Homo sapiens: one gene and its partner. Each later gene encodes a partner of the first gene's protein in a complex. Each region holds a gene or a part of one and is shown on either strand. Other genes may lie near its edges.

What was found. Proteins that work in one complex are often made in the same cells at the same time.
Region 2: the proteins of MYO7A (region 1) and USH1C are in contact, whole or in part, in a crystal structure (PDB 5MV9), measured with the Homo sapiens proteins. Residues at the interface, in NP_000251.3 of Homo sapiens: Phe1946, Val1953, Ala1976, Lys1995, Lys1996, Trp1998, Gln2017, Pro2020, Lys2021, Arg2024, Tyr2026, Ser2112, Ala2113, Phe2114, Phe2115, Glu2116, Val2117, Lys2118, Ile2128, Ser2161, Gly2163, Asn2164, Thr2165, Tyr2166, His2168, Leu2181, Glu2183, Thr2184, Ser2185, Leu2186; in NP_001284693.1 of Homo sapiens: Glu450, Pro456, Ile457, Val461, Val462, Ser463, Tyr466, Glu467, Lys479, Gly480, Pro522, Tyr526, Asp527, Asp528, Glu529, Leu530, Thr531, Phe532, Phe533.

Annotation. Positions count from the first base shown.
Region 1 is NC_000011.10:77,123,834-77,131,882, forward strand, and holds the start of MYO7A (unconventional myosin-VIIa), read left to right. Parts: upstream 1-4,412; 5' UTR 4,413-4,656; intron 4,657-6,755; 5' UTR 6,756-6,801; coding exon 6,802-6,819; intron 6,820-8,049. Other genes in the region: CAPN5 (calpain-5), read left to right, coding at 1-37. UniProt on the Homo sapiens protein: Myosins are actin-based motor molecules with ATPase activity. Unconventional myosins serve in intracellular movements. Their highly divergent tails bind to membranous compartments, which are then moved relative to actin filaments.
Region 2 is NC_000011.10:17,534,002-17,541,638, reverse strand, and holds part of USH1C (harmonin), read left to right. Parts: intron 1-7,637. UniProt on the Homo sapiens protein: Anchoring/scaffolding protein that is a part of the functional network formed by USH1C, USH1G, CDH23 and MYO7A that mediates mechanotransduction in cochlear hair cells. Required for normal development and maintenance of cochlear hair cell bundles.

The DNA.
Region 1 (8,049 bases):
GCACATTCTCAGCAGCACCTCCCTCATGGCTGTCTGACACCTGCCCACCTACCTGGCTCTGACCGTTCCCACCACCATCTGCATGTCCCCACTGGGCCTGAGTCTAGCCTGGGAGCCAGGATACTGGGGTCCTTTTCCCACTCTTCCACTGACTTGCTGTGTGACCTTAGGAAGTCTCTGCCCCTCTCTCAGCCTCAGTGTCCCGAGGGCCCCGAAGCATTCCATTCTCGTGGAGGAGTTTCCTTGCTGAGATTTCAAATAGTCCTCCCCACCTCAACTGTCACCACTGCTAAGGGACTCTATCCATTGAGCACATTTTCCTAAGGCCCTGCTGTCTGCCGAGGAGCGCCAAGAAGATGTCACTTGTTTACACACGAACTGCCACATCCCCAAGCTCCGTTCTTGCCCCTCGTGTCCTAGGCCCAACCCAGCCTCCCAGACCTCACTTTCCCCATCAGCAATACCTGGTGTTCTCCCACCTTGAAAGGACTCTTGGCTCCTGCCGGGTTCCTGCTCAGGCTGGAATTGGGAAAATATGCAGGTGACATTTGTTCATTCTCTAATCCCATCCTCTCACCCATCCATTTCCTCACTCAGTGGAGATTTGCCAAATGAATAAACGACACCTTTGAGGCCCCAGGTGAAGCGGGGCCCTACTCCGGCCTCTGCCTTGGGCCTCGCCTCTGTCCTCAGGTCCTCTCAGAGGCAGATACCTAGGGGAGCTGCTGCTGCCTGCTCATTCTAGCTTCCGATTCCATTCCCAGCCCCTGCGTTAAGGTCCCTGGAGAGGTGGCGTCAGTGGGGGTGAGGAAGGGCATCTTCCTGACTCCTCTGCCCAGTGCTGGAAGGAGCATGCCTGGGTTAGTGGGCCAGGGGCCAGGCAGCTGGGGGCCTTTGGGGACCAGAAGGGGAGATGTGCTCCCAGAGCCTCTCTGCTGTAAGACCCCAGCTTTTCCTGGAAGATGGGACTCTGGGGTGTGTGGTGCTCACCAGAGTCAGGCCACCCACTGGGCTCGGCAGGAGATAGGGAGCCCCATCACCTGACCACAGCCCCCCACCAACATTCCCCCAAAATGCAGCCTAGGAGGCCGCAGTGCTCTTCTTCCTGCCCAGACCAAAATGTTCCTTTTAGTCCTCAATGTTTTATATTCTTTTTGTTTTGAAAATCTCAATTTTAATCAGGGGTTTTAAAAGAAAATTGAAAGCCTGAACCTCCATTTTTCTTCTTGGCTCCAGTTTTGCTGGTCCTCTGGAGAACTCTTCGTGAGCACTGGTGCCGTGACCCACTTGGGATCTCTGCTGTGCCCTTCTCGGGCTTCCAGACCAGGTGTAGCAAATGAAAAAGTGCAGTTAATTCAAGAACAGGAATCCCTGTGTCCTTGCTGGGATTTCCTTTTGGGAACCTGACTTTCCGACTCCAGATCCTGCTGTCTGGATCAGTGTTCTGGCTGGAGGTGCTGGATTCTCTGATTTTGCCTCCTCACTCTGTGTCTGGCTTTGCTCCTGGGTCTTGGCCCTGGGCCATATGAGGGGCCAGGAAATGAACGACAAGGAGGATAAGAGTGTTCTTTCTTGAAAGCCGGGACTTCCCCTCAAGAACCTGGGCCTGGGGCCGGGACTCTGCATGACTGGGAGCAAGTCACTTAAACCTCCTGTGCCTCGATTTCCCCCTTCTACAAAGTGGGGCCAATGATTCTTGTGTGTCAGCACTGTTACTACCGAGTGCTGAGTAAGGGCAAAATAATACCCCTTTCTCTATGTATCTCTGTATGCACACGCACTATATATATATATATATATATATATACATTCATGTAATCACCACTTCTCGATGTCTATTTCAAATCAAGGCTCCTGAGTAGGGGGTGAAGTGAGCCAGCTTGCACCTCAGGCTAACACATAGGACTTTGCTCAGCCATGTCCCCTGGGATACAGGGGCACACCAGGACCAAGTGGCAGACCTGTGGGCTTCAGCCTCGGGGCCGGGGCATGCCTGCCACCCCCTGACAAAAACAGGTTCCACAGTGCTACCCTTGCTTCCTGCCCCTTGAGGTGGGCCAGGCTGGCTCCTGGCTATGCAGGGATCTCTGGTCCCCAGGAGACCTTGGGGGCCAGGCAGGTAAGGATCAGGGGTGATAGGGGAGAGCAATTACTTTGTTCACTGTATGCACCCGCGGGGGCCTGGGAGTCCCCATTTGCAGGTGGGTAGGGCCTCCAGCCCACACCACCCAGACCTAGGCTTCCCTCTTCTCAGGATCCACCACAGGGTTAGGGGACAGGAAGCCTGTTCTATTCTCAATAAATCTTACAAAATTCCAAAAAGACTTTCCTGTGTCCCTCTGTCCCCCTGGGGGGAAGGGACAATGGAGGAATATTCCCCAGGCCTGGGCGACTGTCCGCTGGTCAGAGGGAAGGCCCCGCTGCCTGCCCGGTGCACCTGTGAGCTGAGATTGTGGGGATCATTCAGTCATTCCTTTATTCAGTAGATCTGTACGGGGCTGGCTTTGTGCCAAGGCCTGCCCCGGGCACCTGGGATGTGGGGAACCAGGCATAGCAATCCCTGCTCTGGGACAGTCTACAAACGAGCAGCGAGAACAAAGACATACTCTGGTCATGACAGACACTACCCCGCACATTACTGATGGGGCAGTGTGGGCCTGCTGGGTTAGAGACGGCCTACTCCCTGATCTGTGCATGAAGGGCTGGGAAGAGGAGATGGGCCTTCGGGGCACAGGAAGGTGTGGGGGGACCAGAGCGGAGGCTGCTGAGGGCAGATGCAGGCATCTAGGGCCAGGAAGCTGGTGTGGTGGTGGGGAGAAGCAGGGTTGGGATGACTGAAAGCAGAGTGGACGACTCAATGAAAAACGACTTGGGAGACGGGGTGAGTGCAGTGTGAGGGCAAAGTGAACCGAGATGCCTCGCTTTCTTCATGGGACTGAGAAATGGGTATTGCAAATCGTGTGATCTGCTTAGCATAGTGCCTGGTTCATAGCATGGCTGAACACAATGTAGCTGTCATCCTGGTGTTTGGAGGCCGCCCTGTCCCCCATAACCTGCCCACCTCTCTGCCCCATTCCCACAGCTCACTGCATTTTGTCCCTGCTGCCAGTCGTGTGCCATGGGCTCTCCTGTGCTCCCCCGGGGTCTCATTTCCCCATCCGTGTAGGGCTGACGCCACTGGCCCCGCCCAGCCTGGGAGGATGGAGAGGGGGGACTTGAGGAGTGGCCAGTACTGGGTTTCGGCAGCAGGTGCAAATCCCAGGTGGGGACTGTGTTCCAGGGACTCCTGGACTCCTGTTAGGCCAGCAGGCTAAGGGGCAGACGGCATCCTGGGGTCTTCCTGGGACAGGGTCGTCGGGTCTGAGGGGACCCAGGCCCTAGCAGAAGCTGACTCCTGTCACGGTCACTTCCCAGCGGTGCTCAGCCCGCCTGACGGAAGCAGCTGGGCAGTGGGGCCTGTGACCAGCAGGCGGCGCTGGCGAGCTATAGCGCCCCTTTGGGCCCCCACCCCACCTTCTGGGCAGCTTCCCTGCAGACACCCCAGTTATGGGGGCTAGGGACCCAAAAGAGACATCCTTCTGCCACCCAGAGCTGCCCTGGCGAGGTGCACTATGGGGCCGCCGACAGCTGCGTGGCTGCCGAGGGCGGAAAGGAGAAACTGTCATGTCCCGATAGGGCCGCGCGAGGTCTCCATCCTCGACAACGCTAATAACAAAGACGTGTGCTCCTCTTTGCTTGGTTCCCCCCACTCCTTTAAATCACAGATTTCACTTCAGTTTATCTGTGTCGCTGTCACACGTGGGGTGGCTCCCAGTCAGCTGGTTTGGCAAAGTTTCTGGATGATTACGGAATAACATGTGTCCCCAACCCGCAGAGCAGGTTGTGGGGGCAATGTTGCATTGACCAGCGTCAGAGAACACACATCAGAGGCAAGGGTGGGTGTGCAGGAGGGAGAAGGCGCAGAAGGCAGGGCTTTAGCTCAGCACTCTCCCTCCTGCCATGCTCTGCCTGACCGTTCCCTCTCTGAGTCCCAAACAGCCAGGTAGAGGAGGAAGAAATGGGGCTGAGACCCCAGCACATCAGTGATTAAGTCAGGATCAGGTGCGGTTTCCTGCTCAGGTGCTGAGACAGCAGGCGGTGTCCTGCAAACAACAGGAGGCACCTGAAGCTAGCCTGGGGGGCCCACGCCCAGGTGCGGTGCATTCAGCAGCACAGCCAGAGACAGACCCCAATGACCCCGCCTCCCTGTCGGCAGCCAGTGCTCTGCACAGAGCCCTGAGCAGCCTCTGGACATTAGTCCCAGCCCCAGCACGGCCCGTCCCCCACGCTGATGTCACCGCACCCAGACCTTGGAGGCCCCCTCCGGCTCCGCCTCCTGGGAGAAGGCTCTGGAGTGAGGAGGGGAGGGCAGCAGTGCTGGCTGGACAGCTGCTCTGGGCAGGAGAGAGAGGGAGAGACAAGAGACACACACAGAGAGACGGCGAGGAAGGGAAAGACCCAGAGGGACGCCTAGAACGAGACTTGGAGCCAGACAGAGGAAGAGGGGACGTGTGTTTGCAGACTGGCTGGGCCCGTGACCCAGCTTCCTGAGTCCTCCGTGCAGGTGGCAGCTGTACCAGGCTGGCAGGTCACTGAGAGTGGGCAGCTGGGCCCCAGGTAAGGATGGGCTGCCCACTGTCCTGGGCATTGGGAGGGGTTTGGATGTGGAGGAGTCATGGACTTGAGCTACCTCTAGAGCCTCTGCCCCACAGCCACTTGCTCCTGGGACTGGGCTTCCTGCCACCCTTGAGGGCTCAGCCACCACAGCCACTGAATGAAACTGTCCCGAGCCTGGGAAGATGGATGTGTGTCCCCTGGAGGAGGGAAGAGCCAAGGAGCATGTTGTCCATCGAATCTTCTCTGAGCTGGGGCTGGGGTTAGTGGCATCCTGGGGCCAGGGGAATAGACATGCTGTGGTGGCAGAGAGAAGAGTCCGTTCTCTCTGTCTCCTTTGCTTTCTCTCTGACACTCTTTATCTCCGTTTTTGGATAAGTCACTTCCTTCCTCTATGCCCCAAATATCCCATCTGTGAAATGGGAGTATGAAGCCCCAACAGCCAGGGTTGTAGTGGGGAAGAGGTAAAATCAGGTATAGACATAGAAATACAAATACAGTCTATGCCCCCTGTTGTCAGTTGGAAAAGAAATTAACTTGAAGGTGGTCTAGTTCTCATTTTTAGAAATGAAATGTCTGTCTGGTCATTTTAAAATGTGGCCCTTAAATTTCACGCCCTCACCACTCTCCCCCATCCCTTGGAGCCCCATGTCTCTAGTGAAAGCACTGGCTCTGCCCCCAGCCCTCATGGCTCATGCTGGCATAGGGCGCCTGCTCCACAGCCTGGGCACCATCTTCAGACAAGTGCCCGGTGGCAACTGCCTGCTGGCCCTGTTGAATCCACATCTCCACCAGGCATCCAGACTAGTTCAGGTCTCTGGAAGGACTGTGGGTTTGCTGTGTCCCAGAGCTCCAGGGCAGGGGTCAGGGCTCGGATGTCGGGCAGTGTCATGGGCAGAGGATCGAATGCCCCGGCGGCTCTGAATGGGCCCTTGTGAAAAATTGATGCGCATTCTAGGAGACAGGTTGGGAGCCAGAGGGGCCTCATACCAGGGTCTGTAGGCTGGGGCTGCCTTTTAAGCTCCTTCCTGAGGCCGTCTCTGGGTCTGGCCCTGTGCTGGACAAGGCTGGAGACAAGGCAATGTCTCAGACCCTCTCCCATTGGCCACATCCTGCCCTGGATCAACTCGCCAACTTTGGGGGCAGAGGTGGGACTGACCCTTACCCTGACAACATAATGCATATAGTCAAAATGGGATAAAGGGGAATATAGAGGCTCTTGGCAGCTTGGGAGTGGTCAGGGAAGGCTTCCTGGAGGAGGTATCATCTGAACTGAGCCATGAACCATAAGTGGAAATTCACTAGTCAAAATTTCAGGTAGAAGGGCCAGTGTGTGAAGGCCAGGAGATGGCAAGAGCTGGCGTATTTCAGGAACAGTGAGTCACTGAGGATGTCCAAGTATAAGGGTAGGAAAGGGAGTGAGCAGTGAGAGAAAAGACCGAGGCATCAGCAGGGGCCAGATTGTGCTGGGCCTAGCGGGGCGGGCCCGGGCCCGGGCCCAGGCCCAGGTGCGGTGCATTCAGCAGCACAGCCAGAGACAGACCCCAATGACCCTGCCTCCCCGTCAGCAGCCAGTGCTCTGCACAGAGCCATCCTGAGGGCAGTGGGTGCTCTTGAGAGGTTTCAGGCAGGGTGTGCTGTGAGCAGGTCATGCCCAGCCCTTGACCTTCTGCTCAGTCAGGCTTGTCCTTGTCACCCACATTCCTGGGGCAGTCCCTAAGCTGAGTGCCGGAGATTAAGTCCTAGTCCTAAATTTGCTCTGGCTAGCTGTGTGACCCTGGGCAAGTCTTGGTCCCTCTCTGGGCCCCTTTGCCGTAGGTCCCTGGTGGGGCCAGACTTGCTACTTTCTAGGAGCCCTTTGGGAATCTCTGAATGACAGTGGCTGAGAGAAGAATTCAGCTGCTCTGGGCAGTGGTGCTGGTGACAGTGGCTGAGGCTCAGGTCACACAGGCTGGGCAGTGGTCAGAGGGAGAGAAGCCAAGGAGGGTTCCCTTGAGGGAGGAGGAGCTGGGGCTTTGGGAGGAGCCCAGGTGACCCCAGCCAGGCTCAAGGCTTCCAGGGCTGGCCTGCCCAGAAGCATGACATGGTCTCTCTCCCTGCAGAACTGTGCCTGGCCCAGTGGGCAGCAGGAGCTCCTGACTTGGGACCATGGTGATTCTTCAGCAGGTCAGTGTTCCCACCTCTTTGGGTGGCCTGTCCTCCCCAGGCCATATCCCCTCATCCATATGCTTACCCGTGGGACACCCTCCCCAGGGTGTTCTCTTGGAAAATTCCTGCCTAGGCTTCCAAACCCAGCCCTCCAGGCTGAGGCCTAGTCTGAAACCTGTTCCCTCTGCTGTGCCAGCTGGGGTTTCCTTCTCTCACTGGCTCACCCCACTGGGCAGAAATGAGTTTATTTACACACATCTCTGGATCCCAGGCAGTGGAACAGCATGTGCAAAGGCCCAGGTGTGGGAAGGTCCCTGGGGAAGAGGAGAGGAGGTTGGCAAGGCTCCCAAAGCCAGGCCAGGAAGGGCCCTGAGCCCAACTTATTCTTAGGGCCTTGGGGAGCAGTGACTGGAGGGCGGGGGGTGACAAGGCTTGAGCTGGAGCCCCCTGGGATTTTATGGGAAGAAGCAGAGGTGCTGGCCCGAGCTGAGTCCTCCAGCCCCCCTTCCTACTGAGGGCCACAGTGGCCTCTGACCCTCAGCCCTTCCCCGTGATCAGTCTGAGGCTCTAATGAGCTCCTGGCCTCCAGAGCAGGAGCCAGGAATGTGGGCCCTGAGCCAGGTGGGCCTGGCAGCAGGCCGTAGGGCTTGTGGGGCTGTGCATTATGGGGGCTTGGCCAGCAGCTTCTCGGTCTCCAGGGTCACCAGAGGCCAATGGCTCAGCCTTGCCTGGCCACCCTGAGGCTGCACGGACCAGCATGTTTGCATATGAGTGCGTGCGCGTGTGTGTGTCTGTGTGTGTGAGTGAGAGGCAGGCTTCAGGGCAGCATCAGGACAGACATTCTTCTATCCCAGGGGCTGGAGGAGACCCCCTTTAGAGCCCCTTGGCCTGAGAGCCTGTTCAAACGCCCATTAGAGATGGGCAGGATCTAGGAGAGGAAAAGTCCATTCGCTGAGTGTTTGCTGTGTGCCAGGGCCTGGGCCCCCATAGCCCTCCAGGGGCGTCCTCCCTCAGGGGGCCTCTGAGGCAGGCCTCTGGCTGATGGGACCTCCTCACCACCCCCTCCTCTCCTGCCCCTCTGAACGCTGACCCACCTCCAGCTGTGGGTGGCCTCTGTTGGGAGCAAGTGTCTTGTAGGTGAATGCCTGTTCTGCCTGCCCTCAAGCAGGAAGTACACTCAGCTCCTTCCTTGGTCCTGAAGAAAGCCCCAGCCCTGGGGAACCGGCCAGCTCTGCAGTTGCACAGGCC
Region 2 (7,637 bases), about 60 Mb from region 1:
GTCAGAGACTGTTTTCTCCCTCAGAGAACCAGCTTTCAAAGGGAGACTGCTCTTCTGTTCGCAGCACCAGCACAGGGTAGGAACTTGGTTACTCATTGGCTTAAAAGTATTTATTGCCTCTTCAGCAATCATGCATTTATGAGCATAGCTGTGTATTCTGCCTGAGGCCAGGCATCTGACAACCGGTTGGGATGAATAAGATCAGAAAGAGCCACCACTCTCTAGGAATTTGTTAATCATTCATTTATTCACATAGGCAATAAATATTGACTGAGCCCTTAATATATGCCAGGCAGTACTCTAAGCATCAAAAAACAAAATAAAGCCCTTGCTGTCTTAGACAGTACATTCCAGTAGGGAAGACAGGTAGTTAAAAGGAAATCAACAAAAGTATCATACAATGCCAGATAGTGATAAATTCTATGAAAAAATAAACTAAGATGGGGAGAGAGAGATAGTAAGTGACAAGGTAGGCAGTCACGAAGGCCTCTCTGAAGAGGTGACATCTGAGCAGAGACCTAGAAGAAGTGAGGAGAAGGAGCCACAGAGATACATGTAGAAGAGCATTCCCTAAAGTGGAAGCAACAAGTGTGAAGGCCCTGAGGCAAGCAGATGCCCGCCTGTATGGAACAGCAAGTAGGACAGTGTGTCCCAGAGGAATCGTGAGTGGAGAATGGTGAGAAATGGGTCGGAGGGGTGGTAGGGGCCTGGTAGGCCATGGTCAGGTCAGGATTTTCTTGTAAGTGTGAATGATTTACATTTAAAAGGAATTGTTCTGGCTGCTCTGTAGAGAATCCACTGAGGGGCCCAAGAGTAGAAGGGGACCTCAGTCAGGAGGCTCCTGCAGGAGCCCAGGCCAGAGGCAGGGGCTCGGACTCGGGTGAGAATGGGTCGGATTCAGGATACATGTTAAAGGAAAAACTGACAGGCTTTGCTGATGGATTGGCTGCGAGCGTAGAAAGAGAGGCATCAAGGGTGAATCCACATTTGGTGGAGACGGAGCAGGTTGGTGGAGACGGAGCAGGAGGTGGTGGAAACCTAGCGTTCCACTTCGAATGCTGTAAGTTTGAGACGCCTGCTAGAGGTGACTGAGAAGGCTGTAGGTCTGGCCTGGAGATAAGCATCGGTAGGTCCTTGGGGGTGTGAGTGGTATTTAAACCCCTGAGATGAATGAGGTCACTTAGAGAGACAGTGCAGATGGAGAGGAGACCTAGGACAGAGCCCGGGGTACCTCAACTTTTGGAGGAGAAGGAGCAGCAAGCGAGGAAGGAAAGCAAGGAGAAGCAGGGCGTGATTGCTGTGCCAGGCACAGGGTGAAATACTACAAACTAGCTGACATGTCAAGAGCCTCTGAAAAGATGAAGGGCACTGTCTATGTCCTTGATGGTGGTGATGCTTTCACACGTGCACATTTATCCCCAAACTCATCAGGTTGTATACACTAAATATATACAGCGCTTTACATGTCAGGCATACCTCAATAAAGTGGTTCCAGAAAAAGAAAAGAAGTCAGGTGTGGCGGCTCACGCCTGAAATCCCAGCATTTTGGGAGGCTGAGGTGGGAGAATCACTTGAGTCCATGAGTTTGAGACCAGCCTGGGCAACATAGCGAGACCCCATCTCTACAAAAAATACAAAAATTAGCCAGGTGTGGTGTTGTGCACCTGTAGTCCCAGCTACTTGAGAGGTTGAGGCAGGAGAATCAATTGAGCCTGGAGGTTGAGGCTGCAGTGAGCTGTGGTCACACCACTGCACTCCAGCTTGGGTGACAGAGTAAGACCTGGTCTCAAAAAAAAAAAAAAAAAGAAAAAGAAAGAAACAGAAACAGAAAGAAAAGAAAGAGAGAGAGACAGAGACAGAGACAGAGAGAACCCTAGACAAGAAAGAAAGAAAGCAAAAGAAAAAGAAAAGATGGATGATAAGAAAATGAGAGTCAAATAAAGCCTGGTACCACTGGGATGCACACTCTAAAGGCCTGGGAAGAAGTGTGGCTGGATCTATTCATCCCACTAACATCTACAGAGGGCCACTCGCTGCCCACTGCTGTGGATATAGAATTTATGTCCACTTATTGTCACTTAGTTTTATGTAACAAACACAGGACTTACTACCTGCCAGGCACTGTTCTGAACTCTTCATAATTATTAACTCATTAAATTAATACTAAAAAACAATGATTAATCTCTCATAGTGATTAAATCCCATTTTAAAAAGAGATGTTAGTCCTCATTTTACAGATAAGGAAACTGAGGCACAGAGAGGAGCAGACCCAGTTGGGGAAGGGGTTCTTTGGCTCTACCACCACACTCACAAGCCAGGCCTGTGTCTGGGCCACACACAGGCTTGTGGGGAGACAGGAGGGTAAAGGGAGAAAGTTCAGCACAGCTTGGTGAGTCCCATGGCAGAGTTGGGGACAAAGTGCTGTTGTGTGCACAGAGAAAGATGTGGCCAGCTTTGTGTGGGAGCCTAAGGAAAGACTTGGCCAAGAAGAGGCGACATTTGAAGTGAGTCTTAAAGATAGAGGAGGAGTCCACAGAGAGGAAATACTGCTGGTACCACCATTGCTAATGGCTAACCAGGGTGGCAGCAGGGAGCAGGTGGCTCGTCCAAGGGGGAAGCCAAGAAAGCTTTATGAACAGGTTCTACAGAAAAGGGCAGGATTAAATGACCCAACAAGCTGCACCCTGGGGCCAGATGCAGGAGGCCAGCATCCCTGAAGGGGCCAGTAGAGGGAAGGTTACCAGAACAGGTGAGAACCAGGGCTGCCAAAGAGGCCCAGACAGCAGCTGCAGCCTTGGGTGGAGGAACCTGCCTAACTGTGGCCCAGCAGCCAGCCCCCAGGGACTAGGAGCCTCAGTTCCTGTCTCCCCACGCCTCTCATCTCCTGCTTGTGCCTCCCGATGGCTGAACACAGCAGAAAGCCAGAGGGGAGAGGAGCCCAGGCAGAGCCCTCTGGACAAAGGGCAGGGTGGAGAAGGCTGGAGGCATGAAAGGAAAAGATCTAGCACACATTTTGGAGACCTTGAAATGTCCCAGGCATTGTCATACGTGCTTTACACATACTCACTCATTTAATCCCCGCAACAGCCCAAAGAGACTTCATCAAGCAGAACAACATGCATTATTTAATTTGTTCTGGCTCTCTTTCTCCCTGTTTGGCTGGGTGCACACCTAAAGTTGAATCTTCCTGAGTTGACTGTCCCATGGTTCCCCTGTGTAGCTATCCTGAAGGGCCAGTCCATATGGGGGAATACAGAGGGATGAGACTGGAGGGTACCACATGGCCAAACCCAGCTTTTGCCTCCAATACCCTAGACAAGGGGCCTGAAGATTGTGAGGGTGGAGATGCTCCCTGTCCCCTCCTCCCTCCCACACAGACCAATAGCACAGTGCCAGAGAAACATCAGTCAGCAAATGCTAATCTAGGCAGGGCTGGCAGCAGGGGCAGGGGGTAGCAGGGATGATAATAGAGATCCCCAACAGCTATTTGTAGATGGTGGGCTCCTTTAGGGCTTCTGTGCTTAATATCAAGAGGGATCCAAGAAAAGGAAAGGCTTTCTAAATCTAGTCGGAGAAAGAAGACTGGTGTCTTTCCCACAGTAGGTGTTCAATAGATGTGTAATGGACAAGTGGACAACAAAGGAGTTATATTTCATAAGTGGATACCATGTGGTAGATTGAAAAAAAGCAGAGGTTTTGGAGCCAGTAGGCATAGGTTGGGGTCTCAATTCTGTCACTTCTCTGAGCCTCTGTTTCCTCATCTGTAAAGTGGGGATGATAACGTTCACCTCAGAGGGTTGTTAGGATATTAAAGATAATACACGTAAAGTTCCTCAGGCAGTGGACAGTCAGTAGGGAGAGGCTGGCTGGGATAAGTGAGCCAGACAGAAAGAGACTCAGGCTGGGAGGCAGGTGAGGAGGCTCCAGACTCTAGAAGAGGGGACTTGGGCCTCATCTGAAATGAAGGCAGGATTCAGATGAGAGGAGGAAAGCTGTCCATTGTGGATAGATGGAGTCGCTGGGACCTACTTTTTTGTGATGAATTGGAAGTGAACTAAGGGGAGGCAGACCCAGAATATATGTGCTGAGGACCAGTGGAAAGGTGGTGACCCAGGCCTGGGCCAACAGGTCAGAAAGAAGGCTCTAGACTAGAGCAAATAGAGTTCACGTTTCATCAACGGACGCCACTGGGCACCGTGCGCTTGTGTGCATGACATGGTTCTGGGTTCCACAGGGAAATGAAGAACATGTTTGGAAGGAAGGGAAGAAAGGAGTGTGGGAGATTTACTGCGTGCCTAGTGCTTCGTATGTACCTGAGTACAGGGTACTGGGACAATGGTACAAAGCACCCTAGAGCAGGGGCTCCCCAAAACTGATCCTCGGGCTAGTGCTAGGCAGAATTCCAGAAGAGAGGAAACTATATAATTTTTTAATATTGGAAAAGTAATTTGATTTGGACCACAGGGAAGACTACAAAGAAAAAGTAATTTAAGTGATGGTGGTATTGTTACTGCACGTTCAGGCTTTAGAGAAACTTCCATCTTTCTCAGCTTTCTTTCCTGGTGCCTTTTAATGCCTGAAGAGTGAGGTGTGAGTGTGTGTTTTCACTCAGGTGTGGTCAGAGAACAAAGCAGTGCTGTTCTTTCTGAGTCTTTCTGAGATATTTCTGGGTGAGAATGATCCCTCCCTTTGCAGGATCTCCTGTGTAACCAGTTTTCAAGTTTTTGATGATCTATCACTTAGATTCATATTTAAAGAGCATTCTACACAAACCAGATCTATTTTCCCTGTTAGCTGGTATGGTCTATAGAGAATTGTTTAAATAGACAAGTCAGACATGGCGGTAGATGGAATGTTCTGAGTGAGGACAAGGAGATTCCAGTGTGTCAGGGGAAGGATCTGTTCCACTGCAGCTGAGTCCCACTTGGGATGTGGTGAAGCGAGCAATGGCAGAACTGAGGACAGGGTTTGAGTGACCTAACCGGTGACAGTGGGTGGACATGAGGCCGAAGAGCTGAGCTCTGCAGCTGTCTCAGGAGACAGGTAGGATGAGACCTCTGGGAGCAGTGGTCAGTGCTGGAGGGCTGCTGACAAGGGCCAGGAGCCCGGGACCTTCAGGGACAGGCTCCTTTCCACCAAGACCATCTCCAAGTGATCTGTGCTTGGCCCAGGGAAGGGAGAAAAACAGAACCCTAGACCCTAACATTGCAAGTTACCTTACTCTTCTACCTCAGTTTTCCACCTAATGCACAATAAACATGGTCTAAGGAGGACAGTTCCTCACTACTGAAATCTAATGCTACAGCAAGATACATTTCTGCAAAGAGGGATAAGAGGGAACTTCAGTCCTAAGGCCTCAGTCAATAAGAGATTCTCTGTCCCATCTTCTTTCTTGTGTCACCACCCAGGGTTATAACTAGGCTAGAAGTCTTTAGTCAGGGTGTCCTCTCTTCAGCCAAAGCAGACGTGATTTTTATGCTCCCCTTAGAAAGTACAACACTTGGGTTCAAAGAGTCATTCAAAAGATGTCCCATTTTCTCACTCATTATAGACCAAGCCAAAAGTGTTTTCTTAACAGTGCAGAGGAGAGAGATGGGGCTTAGAGATAAGAAAGGAGTTCTTGAAAGCAAAGGGTTGGAAATTTTGGCCTAAAGGGACATTGGGAGTTATTTTCCCCTGCCAGGCCTGAGTCACAATCAATGGTCATCGTGGCGTAGCAGAAAGAACATGGGCTTTGGAGTCAGACTTAGGTTCATATCCTAGCTCTGCTTATTAGCTGTGGGACACTGGGTGAGTTGACTTAACCTCTCTGATCCTCAGTTTCCTCAGCTGCAGCATTATGTGAGAATATTGCCCCAATGTGATAAACAAATGGAATAAAGCCCATGAAAAGCTCCTGGTGCCACCGCATGGGGCATTATGGGGACAACATCATTTCCCTTCCCCTTCTGTTCCCATGGTTACCTCCCTCCCACCTGAACCATGTGGGCATACCAGGAGGCAGGCAGATAAATTCATTCAATACTTCTTTATTGAGAGCTTATTATGTGTTGGGCACGAGAAATTTAGAACAAAATAGATCTCATCTTTCCCCTCATGGGATTTTTCTGTCCAGCGAAGGTGACAGAGAAAACAATTCACAGAGAAAACAAACCTTAAATTACAAATTGTAGTCGATCTGTGAAGGAATTGAAACATCTCCGGGGTGCAGGAGTCGGTTCTGTCTGGGTAGGTGAGCAGGGAAGACCTCTCTGGAAAGGAGGTGGCCAGGCAGGGAAGTGGGGGAAGCAGTCCAAGCAGAGGGAACAAGCATACGCCAAGGCCCTGAGGCTGGAGAGCGTTCGGCCTGTGGGAAGAACTGAAAGGAGGACTTTGTAGCCAGGAAGACTGGTAGGAGAGGAGATTGGGCTTTGATAAGTCAAAGTAAGGAGTTTGGATTTAGGTTTGGTTTGGGGTACAAGAAACTACTGAGCAAGCAAGCAACATATCTAATTTATAAAGATATTTCTCGCCCCTGCTGCTAGGAGAGTTCATACTCCTCCATCACAGCCCAGTGTGGGCAGCCCAGGCCTGTCTCAGGGAGGCACCCCTGCCCCACAGGCCTGAGCAGAGGGGGTGAGAGAATCCAGGCTATGTGGAGAGATGAGCTTTCAGAGGTGGTGGGTGCGAAAGGCCAGCCTCCCACCCTAAGATTTAGTACCACCCACTCAAGCAGATGCTTCCATCTCCTGTCATCTGGGAGCTCCTTTTTTTTTTTTTTTTTTTGAGATGGAGTCTCGCTCTGTCACCCAGCCTGGAGTGCAGTGGTGCAATCTTGGCTCACTGCAACCTCCGCCTCCCGAGTTCAAGTGATTCTCCTGCCTCAGCCTCCTAAGTAGCTGGGATTACAGGGGCATACCACTACGCCCAGCTAATTTTTGTATTTTAATAGAGACAGGGTTTTGCCATGTTAGCGAGGCTGGTCTCAAACTCCTGATCTCAGGTGATCTGCCCACCTCGGCCTCCCAAAGTGCTGGGATTATAGGCGTGAGCCACCGCACCCAGCCCTAGCTGGGAACTCCTTGCACTGAGGTAGGGAGAAAGCAAGGGTGCCCTTTTGGAGCAGGTGGGCTGAACTTCTGTAGCAACTAAAGCCCAAGCTGTGAGTCAAGCCTCCCAAGTTATTCTCACCTTTAATGAAATGCTCAGTCTGATTTTATAGGGAAGGAGGTACTGTCAGATCTAGGCCAGAAATCTGCATTCTGTACCCCCTGCTCAGGCCAGAAATCCCAAGGGCTGGGCCCAGCATGTCCCCTCTGTGGTGGGACGGACAGACTGCCCCGGTCTTCCAGAACCCTTGGGATACCCACAGAAAGAGGTAACGCTGCTCTGGCCCTCTTCTGAGGACGAGTCAGTGGAGAGCATGCAGCTTCCAGCTGCAGCCTCTCTATGAAGGGCTGAGGCCCTGGGCCGGGAGGCTGGAGGAGAGAGGGACCCAGTGACCCCCCAAGCTTCCACCTTGCTCTGTTACCCGTTCTTGGGCTGAAGAGAGACCCAAAAATACAGTGTAGAGATTCACACTGAGGTAACTCAGGGAGTGGAATTCAGGGCCTCCCGCTGGGATTGAGGTGCTAATGACACAACTCCTGAACCTGACC